Regions from separate parts of the Homo sapiens genome. Here all the other regions are reported to be linked to region 2. The links are microRNA targets in miRTarBase. Many come from high-throughput screens and were not tested one by one. Region 2 holds a microRNA gene; each other region holds the end of a gene's coding sequence. Distances are from middle to middle.

Region 1 (5,092 bases), 940 kb from region 2:
CCGGGGTCATCCGAAAGCCCAGATTGCAGGAGCGTCCAGAAGGGCCCACTCTCCAAGGGGTATCCAGTAAAGCGTATCCTGTCGCCCCTGCTCCCACCCCAGCCCACTGAGGTCACCAGGTGCAGCCTTTATGATTCCACTCGGAACATCCTTCCTTCCCTCTGACCAGACCCTGGAACCAGGCCGGAAGCCCCACGCCTGGGCCTGGCTGTGTCTCTGAGTGGCAGTGGGGAGGGACCTTCACTGCACCACCCTGTCCTCCCGTGTGGCTGCGGGTGCAGAGGGAGGAGAGCCTGCCCTGGCCTGGGTGCTCAAGGGCCCCCTCTGTGACCTGCACAGGGCTGTCAACTCCCCTCATGGACGCTGGGTGGGTGGTCCTCACTCAGGTGAGCCCATCCTGGCTCTGGCCAGCTGTCGGTCAGGGTCAGGCAGGTCCCAGGCGGGAGGCTGACGTCAGCCCGCCCTGTGCCCCCCAGGTGCTGCGGATCGGCCTGCTGGGCTGCAATGCCACCCGCGAGAATGTGGACCGCGTGACGGAGGCCCTGAGGGCGGCCCTGCAGCACTGCCCCAAGAAGAAGCTGTGACCTGCCCACTGGCACACAGCTGGCACTGGCACACACCTGTCCCATGCCCACCCTGAGGGATCAGGAGCAAACAGACCCTGCAAGGTCCTCCAGGCCTGGGGACAGGAAAGCCACTGACCCAGCCCGGGAGGCAGAACCAGGCAGCCTCCCTGGCCCCAGGCAGCCCTTTTCCCTCCAGTGGCACCTCCTGGAAACAGTCCACTTGGGCGCAAAACCCAGTGCCTTCCAAATGAGCTGCAGTCCCCAGGCCATGAGCCTCCCGGGAATGTTTAATAAAGGGCCTGGCCAACTCTCCTCACTGTGTGGGGTGGTCTGTGAAAGAGTGAGAGGAGAGCATCTCTGCTCCCTGAGCTGCCTGATTGTGGACTTTAGGGGGACACTCCTCATCCTGGAGCCCACAGGGTAGATCCTCCCCTGGAGGAGGTGCTGTCACCACACTCTAGCCCCAGATGTCACACCCCCAAACGTCCTCACGCACCACATCCAGGTGAACCCACACGGCGCACAGGGCTGGTTGGAGACCCCTGTCATGGACAAGGGTACCTGCGTGCTGGAGAGCGCACAGCCAGGACCTGAGCCCATGACACGTGGAAGCCTCCAATGGAAGGTCCCCTATGCTCCCATCCAGCCAGTGCCCACCCCTCAACTGCCTGACTTCTGTGACCATAGATCAGCCTGGCATATTTGAATTTATTTATTTATTTTGAAACGGAGTTTCACTCTTGTTGCCCAGGCTGGAGTGCAGTGGCACGATCTCAGCTCACTACAACCTCCGCCTCCCGGGTTCAAGCGATTCTCCTGCCTCAGGCTCCGGATTAGCTGGGACTACAGGTGTGCACCACCATGCCCGGCTAATTTTTGTATTTTTAGTACAGATGGGGTTTCACTATATTGGCCAGGCTGGTCTCGAACTCCTGACCTCAAGTGATCCACCTGCCTCGGCCTCCCAAAGTGCTGGGATTACAAGCGTGAGCCACTGTGCCCAGCCATAGTTGAATTTCATGGTCAGTGGAACACACAGCAGGTCCTCCACTGTGCCAGCTTCTTTCACTTACTGTTTTTGACACTCACATGTACCGTCGTGGGCGCCGGTGTGTCTTTGTTGCTGAGTGCCGTCCCGTCATATGGACGTGCGTCGTGGGCGCCGGTGTGTCTTGTTGCTGAGTGCCGTCCCGTCATATGGACACCTCATGATTTGTTGGTTCATCACCATAGTTGAGCATCTGGGTTATTTCTATTTTGGGGCTGTTATGAATACGGAGGTAGTGAAATTCTTACTCAAGCCTTCGTGTGGCCATATATTTTCATTTTTCTTGGATAAATAACTAGGAGTGGAATTGCAGGGTCATACAATAGGCTTAACCTTATACGAGACTGCCACGAAATTCTCCGAAGTGGCTCTTCCATGTTTCATTCCCGCAGCTACAGCGTCCAGGGTGCTCCACGTCCTCACCCACACTCCATGTTGTCTTTTTTTGCTAGGGGGTGTAAAATCCTGTCTGATTTGGTTTTAGTTTGCATTTCCCTGATGCCTATTGATGTTGAGCAACTTCTCATGAGCTATCGGCCGTTTGTAGATCTTCTGAAAAGTGTCAGTTCAAATATTTTGTTCATATTTGGATTTTTATCTTCTTATTGTCAATGTGTGATCATTTTAAAATATATTCTAGATACTATCAGATACGTGTGGCATGAATATTTCCTCCCTCTCTGTGGCTTACCTGTTCATTTTCTTTTCTTTTTTCTTTCTTTCTTTTTTTTTTTTTTTTTTTTTTTTTGAGAAAGAATCTCACTCCGTCCAGGCTGGAGAGCAGTGGTGTGATCTCAGCTCACTGCAACCTCCACCTCCCGGGTTCAAGAGATTCTCCTGCCTCAGCCTCCCAAGTAGCTGGGATTACAGGCATGCACCACCACACCCGGCTAATTTTTGTGTTTTTTTGTAGAGACGGGGTTTTGCCATGTTGGCCAGGCTGGTCTCAAATTCCTGACCTCAAGTGATCCACCCACCTCAGCCTCCCAAAGTGCTGGGATTACAGGCATGAGCCACCACACCCAGCTTACCTATTCATTTTCTTAATTGTGTCTTTCAAAGAGCAGGTATTTTCAATTTTGGTGAAGTCGTATTTATGAATGAGTTTTTTTCTATGGTCTGGGCTGTTTGTATCTTGTCTAAGAAACCTTTGCCTACTTTGAGGTCTGGACGGTATCTTCCTGTGTTTTCTTCTAGAAACTTTACAGTGTCAGCTTTTGTATTTAGGTCTATGATACACCTCATATTAATTTTGTGCACAGTGTAGAAAGGGGGTCAAGGTTCATTTTTATCCATACTGATATCCCAGTTCCAGTAACGTTTGTTAAACAGACTTTCCTTTCCCCATTGAACTGACTTGACAACTTTGTTAAAAATCAGTTGACTACACATTCATAGGTCTATTTACAGCCTCTCTTCTGTTTCATTGCATCCTCGTGTCAATCCCATGCTGTTGCAAATATTGTAGCTTTACAATAACTCTTGAAATTAAGAACAAGTCCTCCAATGTTTTTCTCCCTTTTAAAGGTTTTTTGTATTCTACATCCTTTGAATTTCTGTGTACGTTTTAGATTCATGTTGTCTATTTCTTCAGAATAGCTTGCTGAAATTTTGGTAGGAACTGCACCAAATCTATATATCAAGTTAAGGAAAATGGAAATAAAGTATAAATTCCATTTCACAAACAGAAATGTAAGTATTTTAAAATTACTTTCAGCAATGTTTCTAGTTTTCAACATACAGCAAAGTGGGAGGGGGTTATTTAAGGAAAGCCAGGAACCCAGGAACAGGAAAGCCACTGATCCAGCCCAGGAGGCAGGACCAGGCAGCCTCCCCGGCCCCCAGCGGCCCTTCTCCCTCCAAGTAGAACCTCCTGGAAACAGCCCACTTGGGCGTAGATCTTTTGTTAGATTTATTCCTAGGTGTTTGATCTTGTTGATGCTGTTATAAATGGCATTTGAAAATTTTCATTTCCAGTTGTTTATTTTTTAATATATAATCTCATTTTTTTCTATATTAATTTTGTATCTTCTGACCTTCCTAAATTCACAAGGCCTAGTAGCTTCTTTGTAGATTCCTTTAAATTTTCTAAGTAGATAATCAAACTCTCTGTGACTAATGAGAGTTGTACATCTTCTGCCTTTTATGTACTTTTTCTTGCTTCATTGCAACGGTGTAGGCCACAAATACAGTGCTGAATCTCAGTGATGAGTGTGCACCTTCTCGCCTTGGAGACGTGTTTAATGTCTCAGCGTCAGGCTGACGGCAGCAGTGGGGTTTCTGCAGCTGCCCTGCTCTCACAGGCAGGAAGTCCCCACCTGTCCTAGTTTGCAGAGGGTATTTATCACTAACAGCTGTTGTATTTTGTCAAATACCTTTTCTGCCTATGGTGAGATGATCATAAAGTTATGTTTCTATATTCTACGGATGTGCTGTTTTGTTGACTGACCTCTTATTTTCTCGTAATATATTTGTCAGGTTTTGATAGCAAGGTTACATTGGTCTTGTAAAGTGGTTTGGACAGTATTTTCTTTTCCTTTATTTATCAATTAAATTTGTCTAGAATAGGGACTATTTTTTTTTTCCTTATATTTTGGTAGAATTGTCCAGTGAAGCTTTATGGGACAGGAGCTTTCTTTATGGGAAGGATTTTTTTAATGACTTCTAATGTTTTCATAGACATAGAGTTCTTTAGATTTTTGTCTCTCTCTTTGTGCCCGTTTTGGTAATTTGTGTTACCCAGAGCATGCTTGATTCCAAGTTGTTGAATGTGTTGGCATAAAATCATCCATAATATCCCTTTATTATCCTTTAATGCTTACGGGCTCTCTATTGATTTCCCTGTTTCATTCCTGGTATTGGTAATTTATATTTTCTCCTTTTTTTTCTCCCATTGATCAGTCTTGCTAGGGGGTTACTGATTTTATTAGTCTCTCCAAAAAAGCGACATTTACCATCATTTTCTCAATTGTTTGCTTTGTATTGATTTCCACTCTTATTGTTCCTTTTATTTTACTTCCTTTGGTTTTAATTTGCTCCTCTTTTTCTAGCTTCCTATGGTAGAAGCTTAATTGATTTTAAACATTTATTTGTTTTCTAGTATGAGCATTTAAAGCTAAACATTTCCCTCTGAGCGCCTTCTTCACTGCATCTCCCAAATTTTAATCAATGGTGTTTTTGGAATCACTCAGATCAAAATATTTTATAATTTCCTTGTGATTTATTCTTTGAACCACAGACTATTTAGACTTATACTGTGTAATGTTCAGATATTTGGTGGATATTCTAAATGTATTTTTGTTTTTTATTTCAAATTTATGTCTGTTGTGGTCAGAGCTCATACTGTATATGGACTTCAGTATTTTGAACATGTACTGAGAGTCTGTTTTATAAACTAGCAGCAGTCTCGGTGACTATCCCATGGACACGAGATGAACGTGTCTTCGTCATTGTCAGGTGTGAGCTTCTACAGATCCTC
Region 2 (5,104 bases):
CACCCCCATGGCTGTGTCTGGAGATGAGCTCTGGGCGCGGGGTGCAGCCTGGGAGGGCCAGTGTGCCCCCCACCTAGGGTGGTCCTGCAGCCTTTGCCTTCTATTGCGGATGGTGGCGGGTTGGCCGAGCTTTGGGGACCAGTTTCCTCCAAAGTTACTATGGCCCCAAGGCTCTGGGGACAGGGGCAGGTGGCTCTGGGCGTGGACAGAGCTTGCTCCTTGAGCTGGAAACCCTGGCTAACGAGCGAGCAGAGGCCCTGGGACCACCAGGGGCTGTCGAGCTGCACTCTCCAGGCTGCCAGAGGCTTCCATTAGGCACACTGGTGTTTGATTTTGTTTCCTTGGAAGACCTGGAGTTTTTGTCGGTTCTGAGTCATTTTTCTTGATCCGCGCTGCCAGTTCCATGAAGAAAATCACTTTCAAACAGATGTGGAGGAAAGTGCACCTCCTCACTTGTCCAGACCCGGCCTGAATTCACATGGAAAGGTAATCATTTCCCGCCATGAGCTCACTGAGAGTCTGACAGCACTGTGAGGGGAGGTGGCCAGCCAGGCACCCAGCCTGAGCCGTGACCAGAGGTCCGAGCCAGAGATGCAGCCTTGGGATCTCAGCCTGCGGCGCTGGCCCTGGGGCCACACTCAGCATGGGGGACGCCAGGCTGGAGCAGACGCCAGACCCAAACAGCCGCTCTGCCCCCGGGGACTTTGGCAAGGCTGCTGCCTACGTGAAATGATGGAAAGGTCTAGGCTGGCCCCAGGTCCTTTCTGGCATGGCCTCAGGATCTTGGCAGGAGGATAACAATGCCAGGAGGGGGTGGGCTGAGTCATGTGCCTCCTCTCAGGGGCCTGGCTGCAGTGGTCAGGGGCAGGGTGGCTCATTTTGCGGGCACCGGTGCCCTGCACCTGGAGGAGGACCAGCAACAGGACTAGCCAGGTGGCCGCAGGCCCTTAGGACACAGGGGAGGCCCAGGATTTATGGGAAGGAAGGAGCAGAGCACCTGAGTCTGGGGACATCTCGGGACAGGCACTGCCCCCAGCAGCCTCAGCTTCCCCCCATAAAAGGGACAGACGCTGCCCCATGCCTTTAGCTCCATCACTGTCCAGGGACAGGGACTAAACCCTAGACCCCTCATCCCCAAGGAGTCTTGGACTGCAGGTCCAGCTCTGCAGAGGGGCTGCAGGGAGCATCCAGGGCCCATACTCGTCTGCTCATCTCTCAGTCTCTGTGTTTATGGAACACCAGGGGATGCCAGTGCTGTGCCAGGAGGGGCGGTCGGTGCTGAGTGAGGCCTGCTTCCCAAATCAGGCACATTCTTATGAGACTAAGATTTGTCCCTGCTCATGGACATTAAAAAAATGTCAAAGACAGCAGGATTAAGCGGAATCACAGTGTCCTGCCCCCAGTCCCTAACAGAATAGAAAGGAAAAACTAGAAAAATAATCCCAGCAGAAAACAAACAAGGCCATACACTTTGAAAATTTGTAGCCAAAGACCAGGTGTAGTGGCTCACGCCTGTAATCCCAACACTTTGGGAGGCTGAGGCGGGAGGATCACTTGAGCCCAGGAAATTGGGGCTGCAGTGAGCTCTGATTGCGCCACTGCACTCCATCCAGCCTGTGTGGCACTGTGAGACCCCATCTCAAAAAAAAAGAAAGAAAAATTAGTAGCCAATAAAATAAGCAAAAGATTTCAGAGTAGAGCAGAAGGCAGATTCGTGTGGCTCTGACCTGCCACCAAGCCTGAGTCCCACTGGTACACAAGCGGAGCCCCAGGCCGCCTCTGTGCTTGGGATCTGGAGACAGGGAGTCTTGCAATGCCTCTGGCAGACATGGGAAGATAACTGTGAGTTGAAACTCTCCGTAAGAAGTGGAGGCTCCAGGGATGCGTTGGCCTGTGGGCATGGCCTGAGACCAGGACTGGATGCACCACTCTCCCTGTGATGAGGTGAAGCCAGCTCTGGTCTGGGCCATTTCACAGGATTCCAGAAGCAGGAGCAGAGCCTCAGCATTTGAACGAACCTTCTTCCACTTCGGCTGAGCTCCTCCTGCCACCACCATCCTTGCAGGCTTCCCGAAGGTGGCCTGAACACAAACTGCCTGGGCTTCCTGTGGCTAAGAGGGGAAGACGAGCCTTTGCCAGGTTTTGTGGAAAGAGTTAAAACCCCTCCAGTGCTGTGTTAAAACATATGAGGACCCAGTCAGAGCTGCTCGGGCTTGAAGAGAATGGAAAGGCAGGGAAGGGGAGGGCAAGTGACAGGCAAACGTCCCACAGAGAAACCCGTGACTCAGTGCTGGAGAAGGGACCACAGCATGCGCAAGATAAACATGCGGAAGGCAGAGGACGCACAGCTCGTGAACAGAAAAAAAAAATATTCCTGTGCTTTGCCTAAGAGAACAGTTTGATAAGAACATGAATTCAATAAAATAAATGTCAACAACGTATAAGACTAAGAAATGAAAATAAGATGTCAGACCTCAGGAAGCAAACAGAACCGAAACAGTGTCAGAACCAAACCAATACATTTCAAACAGCAACAAACGACATAGCAAGGCTGAAATTGCTATTGACAGAAATCCATCGTTCTCCAAGTGTGGCTCCTGGACCAGCGGCCCCAGCCTCCACCTGGGAGCTTGTCGGAAATGCAGGTGTCTAGGCTGCACCCAGGCCTGCTGGCTCAGGCGCCCTGGTGGGTGGGCCCCAGCAGCATCTGTGTTTAGCAAGGTGATTGCAGCGCACACTACCGCGTGAACACCGCTGCCCTAGAGGAAAGGCTGAAGACAGCCACAGTAAGTAAAGGTAAACGTGGTAGAGGGATGAAAACTGTTGTGAACTTTGTATATGTAAAACTAATTTATAGGAAGGTGGACAAAGGCAGTCCGGCAAAAGAATCACTGGTGTTCAGACCAAAGTGATTCCAAGTGAAATAGTTTGTGCACACATGGTGTGATCTTTCAATATGCAGAATCCATTTGTTTTTCTCATTTCAGAGGATTTTAAAATCTAAGGTCCATACTGTTTTGGTGCAGAAAATTCACTAGTTTTACTTTCATTTGCTTATGTTGAAAACTGATATTAAAATAAATTAAATGTAATTTAAAATAGCATTGATAGATCCCATTTCATGAAAGCATACCTGTGTTTCTGTTGATATACAGGCATAAAAATATCAGGATGTTGTTCACTGATGTAGATGGTTTTTCTGAAGAGAGGAATTTGGAATTTTTTTTCCTTTCTTCCTTGAACCTTTTTTTCTTTTTTTTTTTTTGAGACAGAGTCTTACTCTGTTGCCCAGGCTGGAGTGCAGTGGTGCGATCTTGGCTCCCTGCAAGCTCCGCCTCTCAGGTTCAATCATTTTCCCACCTCAGCCTCCTGAGAAGCTGGGATTACAAACGTGCGCCATCATGCCCAGCTAATTTTTGTATTTTTAGTAGAGATGGAGTTTTACCATATTGGCCAGTCTGGTCTCCAACTCCCGACCTCAGGTGATCTGCCCGCCTTGGCCTTCCAAAGTGCTGGGATTATAGGTGTGAGCCACCACGTCCTTGAACTTTGTCGTTTTGATGTCGAGGAAGGAACCTCTGACACCGAGGGTGGAACAGCCGCAGTTCTGTGCCCCCGGTGCATTCACATCATCGGGCGTGGGAAGTGTCTGTCCCTGTTTGTGAAGATACTTTACCCTATGTGCCACTCCCATTGCCCTTGTCCAGGGAGGCCAGCATTCCCTGTGCTTGAGAGATCTTTTTGTTTGCATATGTTCTGACATAATGTGTTGTTTCGTGTGTTTGCATTTTTAAGGAACGTAAATGGTTATGGGTCATACGTCTATTGCCTGTGTGTTTTCACTCAACACTGCCTCTGTAAGCTCCTTCCTTGTTGCCGTGGGTGCATCTGGCTTGCCTGTTTCTGCACCTTGTAGTGACCTTGCTGCTGTCCAGTTTCGCTTACCCTTCCTGGGTGGTGGGTACCCAGACGGCCTGCAGTGCTGCAGGAAGAACCTCACACATGGAGAAGAATATCTGTGGTTCACAGAAAACTGTGCATTGCCTAGAGGACACTCCTCAAGGTTATTGGATTCTACTCTGTCATCATTTAGAACTATCTTATAACTCTGTTCCTTGTAGGTCACTGATAGCAGTACAAAAGAATTCATATAGACGGGAATGTTCTGTGCTGTATAGTGGAAATCCAGTGAATACCTCCCATCCCCAGGAGAGAGCCCGGTTTGCCTTCACTTGCATATTGATTTAAATATCTCTGATCTCTAAGTGTGGCTATTCTTTGGATTCTGTTTTGAACTGGTGATAACATCTGTCTGATACCTTCCTTGATAAGTGAATAGACTAAATTTCAAATGTGTTCCTTTTTATATTTCTATGAGAGTCATGATTTTACTTTTTTTCTGAAAATTAGCTTTTAACACACATATCTCCTTATGGATCTGTGTAGAAATTTACTTGGAGAAATTTATCAAAGAATAGCATTGCTGGATGTGCTGGGCATTACTGATGTTCATCAATATTCAATCCTTGCCTCCTTCTGGAAACTCAGAGCGTACTTCCAGCAATGTGGCTCATTCTGTCCCCAGGCTGGGAATAGCCGTGACAGTGTCATTAGTGGGCCAAAGCAATGATAAGCTATGGTGAGATCCTTATGCCACACACTCTCTTCCCTTGCCACAGTGACTGCCAGTGTTTTAGCTCAGGGCTGGCAAACTGGCCCGGGGGCCACATCCCACTCACCACCTGTTTTTGTAAATAAAACTTTATTGGAACACAGCTGTGACGTGTCATCTGTGGCTGGTTTTGCCTGGAGTTGAGTATTTGTAACAGAGGCTGTATGGCCTGCAAAGCCGGATGTGATGTCTTTACCCTCCAACCCTTTACAGAAAGTTTGCCAACCCCTGTTGTGGATGGTGGAGCTTTCAGCCGCCTGGGTTCCTCAGAGGCGGTGGGAAGCAGAGCCTACCCCCAAGTCACACCAGACACCTGAGCAAGACATGACCCTTCCCCGGGCTGAGCTGCCAAGCCTGGGCAGACTTGTTGCCAGGCCTCTCCTGGTCAGCCCTGACTGAGTAGGGCTGGCTGCCCCATGGAATCGCAGCTTG
Region 3 (5,104 bases), not on the chromosome of region 2:
GAGGGGTGGGCCATCTCCCTAAGGTGGCTTCTTGCCCACGAGCTGTTTCCTCTTCCCACGTTACTTAATCTCTCACCCCCTCTATTTCAGCTGAGCGTGTTTTTCCCCATCGTGTTCTGCATATGCTCCGTGTTTCTGGTGATAGTGCCCCTCTTCACTGACACCATTAATTCCCTCATTGGCATCGGGATTGCCCTTTCTGGAGTCCCTTTCTACTTCATGGGTGTTTACCTGCCAGAGTCCCGGAGGCCATTGTTTATTCGGAATGTCCTGGGTGAGCTTCTCTGTGCCCCATTACTCACTGGCGGCTATGTGTGCATGCGCATGCAGAGGTGGGGGGTGGCTAACAGCTTCCCCATACTCAGAATTTGCTGGAGGCCATGTGACCCAGCTGTCCACGACTTCCCTTTTGATTTTGACATGATCACTTTAGTTCTAATTTTAGTGTCCTATTTTGGGGCTAAAACATTACCTCCTGACAACACAAATCACCTGGGAAGATGAGTTGTGCATCAGACTCTGGTTGGGCATGGGACAGAGGATGATGAGGCTTGTTGGGAGACAGGGGCAAAGCCTGATATAGGGTACTTAAGGGGCAGGTGGCGAGGGAGCCATAGATGTTACTAGTCAGCCTTGTTCAGGTTAGGGCTGTAGCTAGATGTTTACTAAACCCTGTGCTTGCTCTATTTTCATTTAGCTGCTATCACCAGAGGCACCCAGCAGCTTTGCTTTTGTGTCCTGACTGAGCTTGATGTAGCCGAAGAAAAAAAGGATGAGAGGAAAACTGACTAGAGGTCAGAGGTGGCTTTCTGAGGCCTGGAAGGCAGGCCAACCAGCAAAATCCTGATAACAAGACTCTGTGGGCCCAACTCTCCTGAATTAAAGGAGCCTTTTGACCCAATCATATAGTGGGGCTCAGGGCCAGTGCTCACTCTTATTGGTAAGCTATAGGAGACTCAGGATCTGGGCCAACCTCAAGGTGGGGGCTTCAGAGGGTGGGGGGAAGATTGGGGAACGGGGGGAATGGTCATTTAGTTTTACTCCTGATAGGTAGATGCAGCTCTTACAGATATTTACTTGGTAAAGTGCAGTGGGGAAGAGGGAATGCTAGGTTGATAGGGCTGGTGGCTTCTGAATTTGGTATTTGAACTAGGAGTCCCTATAGAGGGGCTGCTTTATGGGAAGTTTTTCTCTGACCAGGTACAACACCTGACTTTAAAGGCCTGAAATGCTACCATTTCTTCCTCTGGCTCAAAATTCTTCCCTGGGGAGAGAGTTATATTCCCTTATTTATTGATATTTAGTCCAGAACACCAGTTCTAACGAAGCATGCGTGTCTCTTCATCTACAGGATGCAATAGGCTGATTGTATTTAAAAATCAAAGTACCCAAAACTGAGTCCCTTTGGGCTCAGAAATGTCTGTGGTATTGGGTCAGACTCTGACCACAGGTTTTATGCTGTTTAGCACAATTTCTATTGAGTCTTACCTGCAACAATGAACCTTAAAGATTTTTTTACTCACGTACCTGTTACACTTTAGCATACAGATAGATCATAGATCACGTTACAAGCACTTGGCTCAGGTCCAGCAAGGACAGATGAACAAATTCCTGAGTCAGAAGTCTGTTAATATTGCTGTTTTGAAGGACAATCCTTTATTTTACTTGAGACCTTACATCTTTGTTCTAGCTGACAGTAAATCTCTGGGTTTCTGTTACGAACTCTAAGAGGGCTGAAACTTCTGATATTCAGGTGGATCACCTGAATTCTCTCAGCTGTCAATGGCTTGGAGAACATCTCATGGGCCCAAGTCATCAAATAACCTGTTCCTCTCTGTAAGGGCAGTGTGAGGGACTGCTGTGCAGACCCAAGCAATCCCAACCTGGTGCTAGGTCATTTCACTTTTCTGAAAACCTCACATCAGGCTGCATCCTCTTCTGTCCCTGGCACCAGGCTTTGTTTACACTTGGAGCCACCTTGGTGTGGGTCACCGGGACAGTGTACTCCTCTCCTGCCAGCCTCCCCTTCCCCGAGGTGTGGTGGCTGCAGTCTCAGGAAGAGCTTGGTACTTGTGGGGACTTCTGTTTTCTCCCTGTGGAGATCAGTGAAGACTGGGAGGAAAGCTGCTTCAACCTGAGTCCGGCTCTTCAGCAGGCTGCACAAGTGGAAGCAACTAATTCTGGTGCTCAGGCTGGGCTCTCCACCCAAGTTAGGCCTGCTCTGGCCTAATGGATCTTACTGTATGAGCAGGACGGCTGCATTGGATTGTACAACTGTTTTGTGATGCCCCCAGACACTGTCATCCTGGGCCGAGAAGAACCTGCTAGCTTGACATACCCCATGGGCTTATCCTTAGGTTTTGGAATTGGTCAACAGTGAGGCAGTCTCCCTTCCTGACCATTCTTCTCCACCCAGTCACAGATAAGGGAATAACCTTGGCCATATATTTGCTCAATAAAGATTGAAGGAAGCATGGTCATAGTTGCCCTGGGTTCAGAGCATAATGCATATGTGAAGCATGGGGTGACATTCCTACTGTCATGGGTTTGGGATTTGTAACGGCAAATTCCTGCCCGACGACAGGGTGTCTTATGCAAAGGCTGACTTGCCTGAACGCTAAGAACATGACTTCTGTCTGAGCTAAGCTGGCACCCATCCCAGGGCTCCTCTGGAGCTAATCCTTTAAGCAAAATGTGCTTGCCTTTTAAAGATCCCTGACCCCAGCTTTAGCTTTCTCCACCAGATAACCAGCTAATCCCAGGAATTTGCTGCCCCCCACCAGTGGCTTCTAGGGAAAGCAAGGACCTCACATGCCAGGTGCCCTAGTACTTGCTTAGTGAGCCATGTCATCCTCCTTTCATTTTTGGATGGTGACAGCATTTTTCCCCTCTGTGCTGGATACAGACTTCTCCCAGGATCCTCTCTTTGGGAGCGAAGCCAGAGGATCCCTACAGCACTCAAGCTTCATGGTGGAATTAATTTCTGCCAGCTCTTTGTTGTCTGTCTCCTTAAATCCTTTTCCTGGTGTGCTTATTATCCCTTTTGCAGTGAGTACAGTTTATTAAGTTGTCAGCCCTTTAATATTGGGGAAACTTAATGAGTATAAATAGCAGGGAGCACATTGTAACAGCACAGTGTTTTGTTTTTTTCACCCGGTTGCTGTATGAGAATGGCTTTCAATCCTTTGTTTCTATGCCTACAGACAGAAAGCAAGATGTCTAATATTAGACATACAAGTTGCTGCCTGTTATAACGGTGAATTATACCTTTGTGCATGCCTAGGATGTTTGTTGTTTTAATTAGCTGCAATATATACGGCCTGTGTACACAGAATTTAATCACTTCGGCAGGTTGAACAACTCCATGTAGATAAGAGCAAGTGTAGGCAAAGGTTTAGAAAATGGACATAAAGTCAAAGAATGATGGCAGGTAGGATGAAGGAGAGATACTTAGGAAATCCTAAAAGAGGCGGCAAGAAGGTACCTCCCTGTGTAACTCACCTTCCCCCATGACAGTGAGTAAGAGACACTCACAGGCTATGAGGGTACACCCCTAGCTGAATGTTCTGTGTTGTTTCCTTAGACCTGTGGTGTCCGCTGCAACAGCTACTAGCCACGTGTAGCTAATTACATTAAAATGAAATAAAATTAAAAGCTCAGTTTCTCAGTTGCGCTAATCACATTTCAAGTGCTCAGCAGCCACCCGTGTCTACTACTACACAGTGCAGACACAGAACATATCATCACTGCAGATAGTTCTACTGGACAATGTTACGCTAGAATAAACACCAAGGCAGTCAGTTAAGGCAGCTATGGTTTGGAAAGGCATACGGACAGAGTCTGCTTAGAAGAGATACAAGTTGTTAATAAAATTGATCCTGTTGATAGTAGTTTGTTTTTGTGGTGGGTGCTGTGAAGAGTAAACATTACTCAGTGGAAAGCTAAGTTCAGAAGGTACTTTGTTTTTCCTCCCTTGCCTTAAGTCCTTGGTATTTATAATCAATGCTGAACCTTCTATTTCACTACCGCTCCCTGTTTTAGATATTCAGATTTAAAAGGTTTTCAAAGAATTACTTTCTTCCATGTTCAAAGCTAGATTTTACTAAACACATGTATCACATTCATATATATTGTTTCTTGGCCCCACTGCCAAAGGAAGTCAGTCAGTAATTTCACAACCGTTATCAGAGTTTGGAAGCAGAAATAGCTGTTAACTAAAATCTCCCACTGCTCAGACTACTTTCTGCCCTAATGGCCATTACTATCCAGTCTGTATTGCTACAAGGGACCCACTGGTACCCCTTTTAGATTCTATCAAAAGGAACAGGGTTTTCCTAGAGGCAGGCAGCCTGGTGGTATGGCACAGCAGAAGCTTACTGCTAATGAAATGGGAACCTCCCCCTCCCTTGTGGTTTCAGCACAGAACCTGAATGCCAGGAAAAATTCCTGGGCCAAGAAGCTAAAGCTAAAGAAACCTTCCTTTTTTCAACGTTTTTTTTTCTTTCAAACTGTAGGGTCACTTTTGATTGAGGCAAAGGGGTCCTACTGTAAGTGGAAAAGACTCACTCCCCTAACATAAGTTTTCACTGTGGTGGGATGGTGCCGCCCGATATGCTTGATATGCTTTTCCTTCCACATGTTAAGCTAGGAAACCTAACAGGATGTCAGCAGGGCAGTTAACTCTGGACTCAGAGCCCTCAAGGGCATGTGGCAGAACCTCATGGACATCACAAGACCATCAGTCTGAATCCAGGTCGTGGGGGCTGTCATAGCCGAACTCCTTCTGCACATCCAGAGGGTACTTGCTCCACATCCGCTGTCTGCTGCTGCCTCTTTCCTCCTCACTCAGGCTGTTGTAGTCAGCAGAGCCTAGAATGACATCCCGGGAGTGGATTCTAAATGTGATTTTCCTAGGCTACTGCAGGAGCCCCTTCTCTTCTCAGAAAGGTCTGTTTTTGTTCCCGATTGTAATGCAAAATCCTTGCTCAATAAATAAAAAAGAATATAGAATTCTTTTTTTTTTAAAGAAGGAATCACTTTCCTATCATCTAAACCAAGTTCCTTCACACTGGAGTATTTTGTCACTTCTCCCCTCCGTGGAGTA
Region 4 (5,104 bases), not on the chromosome of region 2:
TATATATATAGATCATAAGGGCTGTTGGAACTGGTTCAGCCAGAGGTGTTGGGAGTATAGGTTGGAGGAGAGGCTGTTGGAGATGAATTTGGGGCATATGTAGGAGGTAGGATGGCCAGGTCTTAGACATGGCTTGGATATGAGGTATGTGGGAGACAAGAAGCAAAGAGGACACCATATTTCAGGCCTGTGCTTTTGAATCGGCAACAGTGCTCTTTCTAAAGGTAAGAACATGAGAAAACCTTCAACTCTGGGAGGATGGGAAAGATCATGAGTTTGGTGGTAGATATGTGGATTTGAGGTCTGTCACATGTGCAGGAGATGTCAAGTGGGCAGTTGAATATTCTTGTCTGGAGCTCACAGGGGAGTTCTAGGTAAGAGGTATGAGAGTGGTTCACTATTTGAAGCTGTGAATGTGCACGAGGTCTTCCAGGGTAAGAGAGGATAGGGTGAGAAGCAGAGGGCCTCTGACTGATAGACAGAGGCACCTTGAGAGACCCAGCTTCAAAGGATGGGCAGGACTTCCCTGGGCAGGCCACATACTTGGGGCTGTCTGTGGCTGGGATGATTCGTTTATTCGCTTACTCAAAAACTATTGAAGACCAATTCTGTGCCAGGTATATTGTGGGTGCTGGGGATGCAGCCCTGATGTTCAGGTCCACAGCCCTGGGGTCTGTGGGACAGTGGGGTCCTGTCCCTGTCCAGTGGTGGTTGCAGTACCTCCCTGGGGTCCCTGAGCTGGCCTGCTCTTCCCACAGCTGCGCATGGAGTACCTCTCCCTGATGCATGCTATAGTCCGCACCACACCCTACCTGCAGCACCGCCACCGGCTACCCGACCTGCAGGCCATACTGCGACGCATCCTGAATGAGGAGGAGACCTCACCCCAGTGCCAGATGGACCGCATGATTGTCCGAGAGATGTGCAAGGAATTCCTGGTGCTGGGGGAGGCTCCCAGCTAGCACCTTGCTGTCCTCCCTTCCCTGCAGCTCCAGTCAGTGTGCAGGGGACTCAGGGGCTTGGCCCTAAGAATGTTTTGCACTGACAGTGGGAGGGGATAAGGTGGCAGAAGGAACCTGAGCAGGACCCCCACCTGAAGTAGAACTTAAGAGAGGGGCCAAGTGTAGGATTGGGGACCATGGTCTGGGAGCTGTTCTGGGGCAGGGGGAATATGCAAGCTAAAGCCCCTCTATACCCTGGTAGGCTTCCTCTTCAGCATGCCCCCCTCTTCACCCCACACCCATGTGTACACTCAGAGTCCTGCTGCCGCTCCAGGCTGGACCAGACCCCCATCCCCACCCCTCCTGGTCTGTATCCTGGGCCTCAGCAAGCCATGCCCCTGGGGTGAGGGGAGGCATCTCCCACCAGCTCTATTCTTTGCCTTAGCTTTGCAGTGAGTGCTGCTCATGTCCTCCCCTCCACCCGCACATGGGGGTCGCTGCCCTTCACTCCTACCCCCAGAGGCCTTGGCCAAGCTGCTGCTTTGAAAGCGGGATCTTGGAGACAGGCCATCCATCCTGGAGCCTCATGGAACAGGATGATGGCACTGAGAAAGCCAATGACCGAATCTCTTTTCTCTGTAAAAATGTAGACTGAAAAGCCATGTGTATTTTCCTATGTGCTGTAGCTCTCCTTTGGAAATAAATCACAGGCATCTGGAAACAGGCTTCCCTGTATGATCTTGGGAGACAGTGGGAGAGGATGGGCAGAAGTACTGGGGCCTCAGGACCCCATCACTGCAGCTTGCACTGACTTCTCCAGCCTGAGGAGGTGATGGACCCTGACAGGCCTGGCCTTCAAGGCCCTTTGAGCCCTGTTCTAGCCTCTCTTCCCTGAGCTCCACTTTTCCTGAGCCCCAGCCATAGCCAAGTGCCCCTCAGCAGCCCATTCGCAGGTGTCTGCATCTCCAGGCTTCACTTACACACTTACATCTTTCTTTTTCTCCTTTTTTTTTTTTTTGAGACAGTCTCACTCTGTTACCCAGGCTCACTGTAGCCTTGACCTCCCAGGCTCAAGTGATCCTCCTGCCTCAGCCTCCTGAGTAGCTGAAACTACAGTAGCCACCATGCCCAGCTAATTTAATTTTTTTTTTTTTTTTTGGTAGAGACAGGGTCCTACTATGTTGCTCAAGCAGGTCTCAAACACCTCAGTTCCGGTGATCCTCCTGCCTTGGCCTCCCAAAGTACGGGGATTATAGGCGTGACCCATCGCACCGGCCCGCTTACATCTTTCACTTACATCTTTTGCTTTGCTTTGAATACCGCTACTCTCTCCCCTGTTGAAACCCTATTGTCCTTCATAGTTGTTCTCAAATGAAGCAGGCCCCTACCTACCCCCAGCCCTGGCCTCTGAATGCTTGGGCCTGTCCAGCCCTATTTTCTTCCCCCATTTGTCCTTGTTTCCAGCAAGATCACCTCATCTTGCAACCTCAGCAGAGATCTGGTAATCATGGTAGGGCAGAAGGAGGGTCTTAACAAGCATGGGGTTACGTTTCCATTAGTGTTTTAGAGGAACTAAGGGCCAAAATTTGGCAAAAACTTCACTCTTGCAGACTCTCAAGTTAGCAAAGAAGTTCTCACCATAAGTTTGGGAGCAGAGTCAGAAACCCACAGGCAGACACCAGTCAGAAGTGTTGTTTCTGTTTTCTAGATTGAGTCTCACTATCTTTTCAAGGCTGATGTCCAACTCCTGTGCTCAAGCAGTCCTCCCACTTCAGCTTCCCGAGTAGCTGGGACTACAGGCACACACCACTATATAGGCTTCACACACAAGTGGTTTTCATCAGTTCCCTTTATTTTTTACCCAAACTCTTCATTCATCAGATGTTTCCACACATCAGCAATCACTGACACTGACTTCTGGTCATGACTTTTTCTTTCTTATTGGGGTGCTGAAAACAGAGGGCAGTTATCCTCCCAAAAAGAAGGTAAAGCAGCACAGGGAGGCAAGGGCTAGGGATGGGGCCCCCCAGCAAGAGGCTCTCAGAAGTTGAAGCAGCAACATTCCATAGGAAACCCATGGGAGGAAAGTATGGGGTCCTGGTGGGGGATGCCCTGCTCACCGCTTACTGTCAGAAGGCCAGGTGCACAAACTCACTGGGACCTGAGGAGGGGTTGACAGTGTTTGGCCCCCAGTAAAGCTCTGTGGGACACAACCTGGTTACTAACTTTTTTTTTTTTTCTTTTTGAGACGGAGTTTTGCTCTTGTCACCCAGGCTGGAATGCAATGGTGTGATCTCGGCTCACTGCAACCTCTACCTCCCAGGTTCAAGCGATGATTCCTCTGCCTCAGCTTCCCGAATAGCTGGGATTACAGGTGCCCACCACCACATCCAGCTAATTTTTGTATTTTTAGTAGAGACGGGGTTTCACCATGTTGGTCAGGCTGGTCTCGAACTCCTGATCTCAGACGATCCACCTGTCTCAGGCTCCCAAAGTGCTGGGATTACAGGTGTGAGCCACCGCGCCCAGCCCCCGCTTTTTTTTTTTTTTTTTTTTTTCAGATGGAATCGTGTTCTGTCACCCAGGCTGGAGTGCAGTGGTGTGATCTTGGCTCACTGCAACCCTTAACCTCCTGGGTTCAAGCAATTCTTCCTGCCTCAGCCTCCCCAGTAGCTGGTATTACAGGCGCCTGCCACCACACCCGGCTAATTCCTGTATTTTCAGTACAGATGGGATTTCGCCATGTTGGCCCGGCTGGTCTTGAACTCCTGACCTCAGGTGACCCACTCACCTCCGCCTCCCAAAATGCTGGGATTACACGCATAAGCCACCACGCCTGGCCTGGTTACTACTTTTAACCCTGGAGACATTCTGCCTCCTTTTCATATCCAAAGTCAATGACACTGACTTCCAGTCACAACTCCTTTCTCACTGGGGTGCGGAAGGCAGGGAAGTATTCTTATGAGATAGTGTATTTCAGTAAAAAGCACAGGTCCTCAGGAAGCTGAGGCAGGGACATCGGACAGCCTTTGTGACTTGCTGTGTTTCCTGTCATGATGCACACACAAACCCTGTGGGAACGGCAGGACTGTGCTGTGCCATCTGTCCCAGTGCTGGCACCTAGGTCAAACAAGGTATGGCCCCATGGCAGAAGCCTCTGCTCACTTCTGCAGGAGTGCCCAAGGTGGGCCCTGGCACCTGTTTGTAAGAGAAGCAGAAGCCCCAGCTGATGAAGTTACATACATGCTGACTCCTGGTAGCAAGCGTGCTCTGAGGGGACTCCAGGACCTCTTCAGCAAACACCCTTGTGGTGGCCTCACAACACAAAATTACAACCAAAGGCAGATTATGATTAGTCAGAGAAGTCCTCTTGGGGAGGGAACTGTCTTTGATAGAACACGTCTATGGCTGCGTGGAAGGTTGGTAGATGTGATATGTGGGTAGGCAGTAGGAAGGGCAATGAGACAGAGCATTAAGCCACCCCAAGAAAGGGGAGTGTTTGGGTAGAGTTGAGAAGAACTCAAATTTTGGGGGACAGTGAGGGGGTTTGGGCTGACTTCCTGGGTCAGAAGTTTCTGAAGCTGCAGCTAGGAATGGGTGTGTAAGTGTGCAGGTGGCTCACACCTGTAATCCTAGCACTTTGGGAGGCCGTAGAGGGAAAATCGCTTGAGCCCAGGAGTTTGAGACCAACCTGGACAGCATAGGAAGACCCCATCCCTACAAAAAATACAAAAATTAGCTGGGCGTGGTGGCCCACACCTGTAGTCCTAGCTACTCGGGAGGCTGAGGTGGAAGAATCACTTATGCTCAGGAGCAATTGCACCACTGCACTCCAGCCTGGGTGAGAGTGAGACCCCAACTCAAAAAAAAAAAAAAAAGTGCTGGCACCGTGTCTTTGGCATATGTGCTGAGCCATAAGCTGCACATGCATAAGGCCAACCCCAGGATGAGGGGTCAAGTAATTCTGTCTCAGCCTCCTGAGTAGCTGGGATTACAGGCGTGCGCCACCACACCCAGCTAATTTTTGTATTTTTAGTAGAGACAAGGTTTCTCCTTGTTGGCCAGGCTGGTCTTAAACTCCTGACTTCGGGTGATCCACCCTCCTTGGCCTCCCAAAGTGCTGGGATTACAGGCATGAGCCACCACACCCAGCGTATCCATCC
Region 5 (5,104 bases), not on the chromosome of region 2:
TCCATCTGGTTCTCTCTGCATCAGCACTGGGGAGGGCTATGAGGAGAAAGAGCTAGGGATTATTTTTTGGCTTTCATGGATTTCTTCCTCAGGGATCAGATATAAAATTTAGACTGACCTTCGTTTCAGAAATTGTAAGCTGGACACCATTGGCTTCCTGATGGTTTGTGATCTCTTCAGTCACCTCCATAATGGAGTGACCAGCTCTCTTTAGCTTCTTAGAGATATGTTACTGTTGGCCGGGTGCAGTGGCTCACACCTGTAATTCCAGCACTTTGGGAGGTCAAGGTGGGCAGATCACAAGGTCAGGAGATCGAGACCATCCTGGCTAACATGGTGAAACCCCGCCTCTACTAAAAAAAAAAAAAATACAAAAAATTAGCCAGGCTTGGTGGTGGGTGCCTGTAGTCCCAGCTACTCAGGAGGCTGAGGCAGGAGAATGACCTGAACCTGGGAGGTGGAGCTTGCAGTGGGCCGAGATTGTGCCACTGCGCTCCAGCCTGGGCGACGGAGCCAGACTCCGTCTCAAAAAAAAAAAAAAAAGAAAGAAATATATTACTGTTTTGTGTGTGTGTGTGTGTTTTTTTTGTTTTTTTTTTTTTTTTTTTTTTTTTTTACAGTGACAGTGAATCCTAAACCTGAATGGCGCTCATGTTTTCCAAGAGAAGCAGCCCCTGAGGGAGTCTGCTGAGGCTGCCAACAGAGGATGAAGAGGATACAAATTTAATTAATTTCAAATCAACATAGACACAAGAACCTTTTGCTGTTTCTTCCAACGCCCACTCTTCCTAATGATGGCATCACTTGCACTTGGAAGAATGTGCAATTGAGAAGTACTAGGAAAAGGCCTGGCTGCCATCCATCGCTGCCTCTGAGGGTGGAGAAGGAGGCGGGTGATGTGCTCACTTCTGATCAACATGTGTTGCCTCCTCTCAGCCAACTTCTAGCTCACTGAACTCACTCTGGTCATGATAAATGTTCGTCACCTTTCTGCTTCATTCCTTAGGGCCTAAATCAGGAAGCTGTTTTATCGATGGTTTCCTTTTGGGTCAGTAACCAGCTTTGGATAATTTCCTCTGATTATTCAAGTCGTGGGACAGGTAAACTACATTCAGCAGGAACTTTTCTCGAGGAGTGTTATGTCATGGAAAAGACACCAAACACAGCAAGTATTTTAATGAATACACCATCCCAGGGGGTCAGTAAGCTCTGCCTGCCAAGAAGACACAGTGAGAGGGGTCCACAGTCCTGATGAGGTGGCGTTTGGTAACTTGTAGACCCTAGCATGGCCAGGTCTGGTCACCCTTAAGAACTTCTCAGAGAAACTAGGAATCTTCAGTGAAAGAACTAATGTTCTCCTCAGCTGAAATTCCCTTGCTTGTCAGCATTTCTGCAAAGCTCACACTTGTTTCACCATACCTCCCTTGGATGTGACATGTAGGTAGGAAGTATGTGCAGGTGGGAGTCATCTGTCAGCCTTCTATGTTTCAGAGATCCTGAAGGTGGTTTGAAACAAACAGAAGAGGAGCAGGAAATATCCGTGCCTGTGGCAGATCTCACTCATCATGCTTAGCATTCTCTCCCGCCAAGCTGGGATAAGCCTCATGTCCTAACACAGCACAACAGGAGGTCTCTGTCAGTCCATCAGAGATGACATTCTATGTGATATTTTTGACATCCTTGTGCTAAAAGCAATGGCACAAAATGGAAAAGGGCCTATTGACCACACCTACTCCAGTAAAATTGTTCTTCATTTATTCCTTAATTTTCTAAATCTGACCCCTTTAAAGCAATCTAGCAAATTGAGAATCCTCAGCTCTCCTTGGATACCTGATATTTTATTTCAAGAAAGAGACAAAGAAGGAAAATTTTATTTATTTTACTACCCACATATAAACCGAAGGGAGATGGGACTACCCAAACATTTGCTGCTCAATTTTGTGTCTTGTGCTTGAAAGTCTGCCCTAATGCATAACAAAAACTACTTGTCTCCTACCTTTTGGGATCCCTTTAACAAGTATTTGCCTTCTGAACTACGTGGATAATTTCAAAGGCAGAGTTCCAGACCAGAGAGGTCTTTCCATACAATGAAAGCTATAACTAGCTGGTTGTGTTTAACCACTGCTATCACGCTATCCTGGGACTGCATAGAACTTTGACAAAAGACAGACTTCATGGTACACAACTTCAACAGATTTTCTGTCATATTCTCACCAGCACATCTGAATGAGGCTTTGTGTTTTCCTTGCTCTCTTGCATGTTCCTTTTCAACTCATGGCCCACAGTGACTCTCAGATATTTATGCCAAAATTGCATACAATTGTTTTCTGAATCATAACTTGTCTATTTTTCTGCCTATGTGTGCTACTTTCAGTTTGTTTCTCATCAACATTTTGACTCTCAGAAGAGCCTCCATTTGCCCCTTTCTCTCTTTAGGTATCTAAGATCTTTGAACACCTGGGCCTTTACATTTGATCCAACCCTATCAAATAATGAACTTCTCAGAGAGGCATCTGGGGTCCTGGAACTTCATGTTGATGAAGTCATATTATATAATATGATAAAAATATTCTCATGCAGTATTTTAAATAATTTCAAATTCTAGAAGAAGCAAATTTCAGCGACATGTCATTGAGTTTTTATTTGGTAAAGCTATAATTGTGCAGTGTACAAAGCACTTTTTAAAAAGATAGTTTATTCTGTCAGGGTATATGAAGTTAGTATACAGCCAGAACAGCCAAGCCTCAATTCTTGTACCTTGTGTCTTTTTATTACTGTTTAATCAATAGATATCATATGTTTATGACAGTTTCAAGAATTGTTTTTAAACCCAAACTTAATTTTATGTTTCAGACTATTGTTAAAAAAACAAAACAAAAACCAAAAAAACCCTCACTAATTTGCCCTAATTGGATAGGGCAATCAGAACAAAATCTGACTTTCGAATATTTAAAAGATATGTAAGTTTGATTGCATTTTCGTACATTTTAAGCAAACTAGGTTAACAACAACATAGCCTAGTCAAACTTCTCAGGAAACTTGTTTTAATAAATATGTAAAAATACCCATTCATGACTCTTGACCCAATGGTGTGACTCCTCCCTCTGGGAAGGGCTTTGTTACCCAATGCAAGACCACAGCCTGGATCCACCTTGATGTAGGTGGCTCCTGGATAACCCACATCAAACAAATGTGATAAAGATGAGTAAAACTGGTCTTGGGAAAATAATTTCATAGTTTTTTTTTCTCCTAGTTATGCTGTATAATACAGGAGAACCAAAAGCTGTAAAATTATTTTATTTTATTTTTTAAAGACAGGGTCTCACTATGTTGCCCAGGCTGGTTTCAAACTCCTGGGCTCAAGCAGTCCTCCTGTCTCAGCCTCCCAAAGTGCTGGGATTACAGGCATGAGCCACTGAGCCCGACCAGCTGTAAAATTATTATATTCATTTTCACTATGTGCTACTTCTTCTCACCTGACTTTTTTTTTTTTTTTTTGAGATGGAGTCTCACTCTGTCACCCAGGTTAGAGTGCAGTGTCACGATCTCGGCTCACTGCAACCTCCGCCTCCCAGGTTCAAGCAATTCTCTTGCCTCAGCCTCCCAAGCAACTGAGATTACAGGCCTGTGTCACTATGCCCAGCTAATTTTTGTATTTTTAGTAGAGATGGGGTTTTCACCATGTTGGTCAGGCTGGTCTCAAACTCCTGACCTCAAGTGATCCACCAGCCTCGGCCTCCCAAAGTGCTGGATTACAATTGTGAGCCACTGTGTCTGGCCACACACTGACTTTCACTGTAATATCTGGATGTTTTATGTAACATATCTGGGCAATAGGGCTTATGGCAGAATTGGCCCTCGTGGTGTAGGCCTTCCAAGTTCCAAGTCTCATTTTTAGTATTCCTCCGTTCCAACCCCTGGATCCACCAGTTCCAACAGCCTGGATCCACCTTGATATTGACAGCCAGGCAGATGCTTCTGCTGATCACCGCAGCTCTAGCAATGGAAATGGATATGTTAAGAAAATACTTGTCTATTCTTTTATTTTGGTGGTTTAAACTATTAATTCACACCATCTCTGAAAAAAGGCCTTATGTTGACTAAAGAAAACATAGGCTTTAGTTTCAGCTTCTGTCAGAATTAGTACCAATTCTGAATCTGGTGGAGTGATAAGACATGGTTTCATGCTGGGAAGACACTGCTGAAATCCTCCTTGTGGGAGAACATGGAAATTTTATACTGAATTAAATTAACGCATGTGACTTTTCACATTCAGAGACATTCAGGATGAATTCTGGGGTTTCCATTTAATAGCTATAACAGGCAGTCCAGAACAACTTCACATATAGCAGCATTTCTGCTATGTGACAATGACCAAAAGAGTTCCTGTATATTAGTGTCTAGTGGAATATTTCAAATTGCAGAACCCAGACAACCAATTGCCTGAATTATTATTATTTTTTGTTTTTAGCAACTCTTTGGCTTTATCTTGATACTGTCTTGTCTGGCACCAAAGTTTTATTTCCTTCTTAGTCCTCTTGGGGATAGTTTTTGGGTGTTTTTTTTTATTTTTCTTTTTTTGAGACGGGGTCTCATGCTGATGCCCAGGCTGGAGTGCAATGGTGTGATTATGGCTCACTGCAGCCTCAACTTCCCAGGCTCAGGTGATTCTATTACCTCAGCCTCCCAAGTAGCTGGGACTACTGGTGTGCACTACTAGGACTGGCTAATTTTTTGTATCTTTTGTACAGATAGGGTTTCACCGTGTTGCTCAGGCTGGTTTTGAACTTCTAGGTTCAAGCAATCCTCCCACCACAGCCTCCAAAAGTCCTGGGATTACAGGTGTGAGCCACCATAACTGGCTGGAATTATTTGTACCTGGACCTTGTGTTTTGTTTTTTTGCCCTACTATCTTTTCTAAATAACATATCATGTTCCTGAGATAGCAGTATATACAATTATGTAAAATAGAGCTTTATATGAACTCTGTACATGCTCTAAGCTCTTTTTGAATGATATTTTAAGAAGTTTCTAAACCAAAGTGCTTAAGAAAACATGAAGATGTTAATTTCATGAAGACTGTACAAGTTTAGAAGTACAATGT

The links. Region 2 holds the annotated microRNA hsa-miR-4786-5p (UGAGACCAGGACUGGAUGCACC, at 1,906-1,927, shown strand). A microRNA usually pairs through its seed, bases 2 to 8, with sites in the 3' UTR of a target mRNA and lowers its output. Matches are read on the target gene's strand: a 7mer-m8 pairs with bases 2 to 8, a 7mer-A1 pairs with bases 2 to 7 and ends in A, and an 8mer does both.
Region 1: the mRNA of AGXT is a reported target of hsa-miR-4786-5p. Seed matches in the 3' UTR shown: 7mer-m8 at 1,486-1,492.
Region 3: the mRNA of SLC7A6OS is a reported target of hsa-miR-4786-5p. Seed matches in the 3' UTR shown: 7mer-A1 at 1,667-1,673.
Region 4: miRTarBase lists NCKIPSD as a target of hsa-miR-4786-5p. The part of its 3' UTR that is shown has no 7-base or 8-base seed match.
Region 5: miRTarBase lists TMEM154 as a target of hsa-miR-4786-5p. Seed matches in the 3' UTR shown: 7mer-A1 at 3,319-3,325, 8mer at 3,695-3,702 and 7mer-A1 at 4,589-4,595.

What each region holds. Positions count from the first base shown.
Region 1 is chr2:240,878,238-240,883,329 of GRCh38, forward strand. It overlaps AGXT (alanine--glyoxylate aminotransferase), which reads left to right. Exons shown (of 11, transcript NM_000030.3): 11 at 477-2,263. The coding sequence ends at 584. Among named protein-coding and RNA genes, the nearest start is that of AGXT, 12 kb to the left of the region's middle.
Region 2 is chr2:239,939,886-239,944,989 of GRCh38, reverse strand. MIR4786 (microRNA 4786) reads left to right here and starts at 1,896; the gene lies at 1,896-1,975. It also overlaps a transcript of NDUFA10 not described here. RefSeq lists an enhancer at 1-205.
Region 3 is chr16:68,296,537-68,301,640 of GRCh38, forward strand. SLC7A6OS (solute carrier family 7 member 6 opposite strand) reads right to left here. Exons shown (of 5, transcript NM_032178.3): 5 at 1,498-4,869. The coding sequence ends at 4,739. SLC7A6 (solute carrier family 7 member 6) reads left to right here. Exons shown (of 11, transcript NM_003983.6): 10 at 91-274; 11 at 698-5,104. The coding sequence ends at 792. Among named protein-coding and RNA genes, the nearest start is that of SLC7A6OS, 12 kb to the right of the region's middle. RefSeq lists a silencer at 1,450-1,744.
Region 4 is chr3:48,670,402-48,675,505 of GRCh38, reverse strand. NCKIPSD (NCK interacting protein with SH3 domain) reads left to right here. Exons shown (of 13, transcript NM_016453.4): 13 at 759-1,662. The coding sequence ends at 962. Among named protein-coding and RNA genes, the nearest start is that of LINC02585, 9.2 kb to the right of the region's middle.
Region 5 is chr4:152,624,078-152,629,181 of GRCh38, reverse strand. TMEM154 (transmembrane protein 154) reads left to right here. Exons shown (of 7, transcript NM_152680.3): 7 at 621-5,104. The coding sequence ends at 636. Among named protein-coding and RNA genes, the nearest start is that of TMEM154, 53 kb to the left of the region's middle.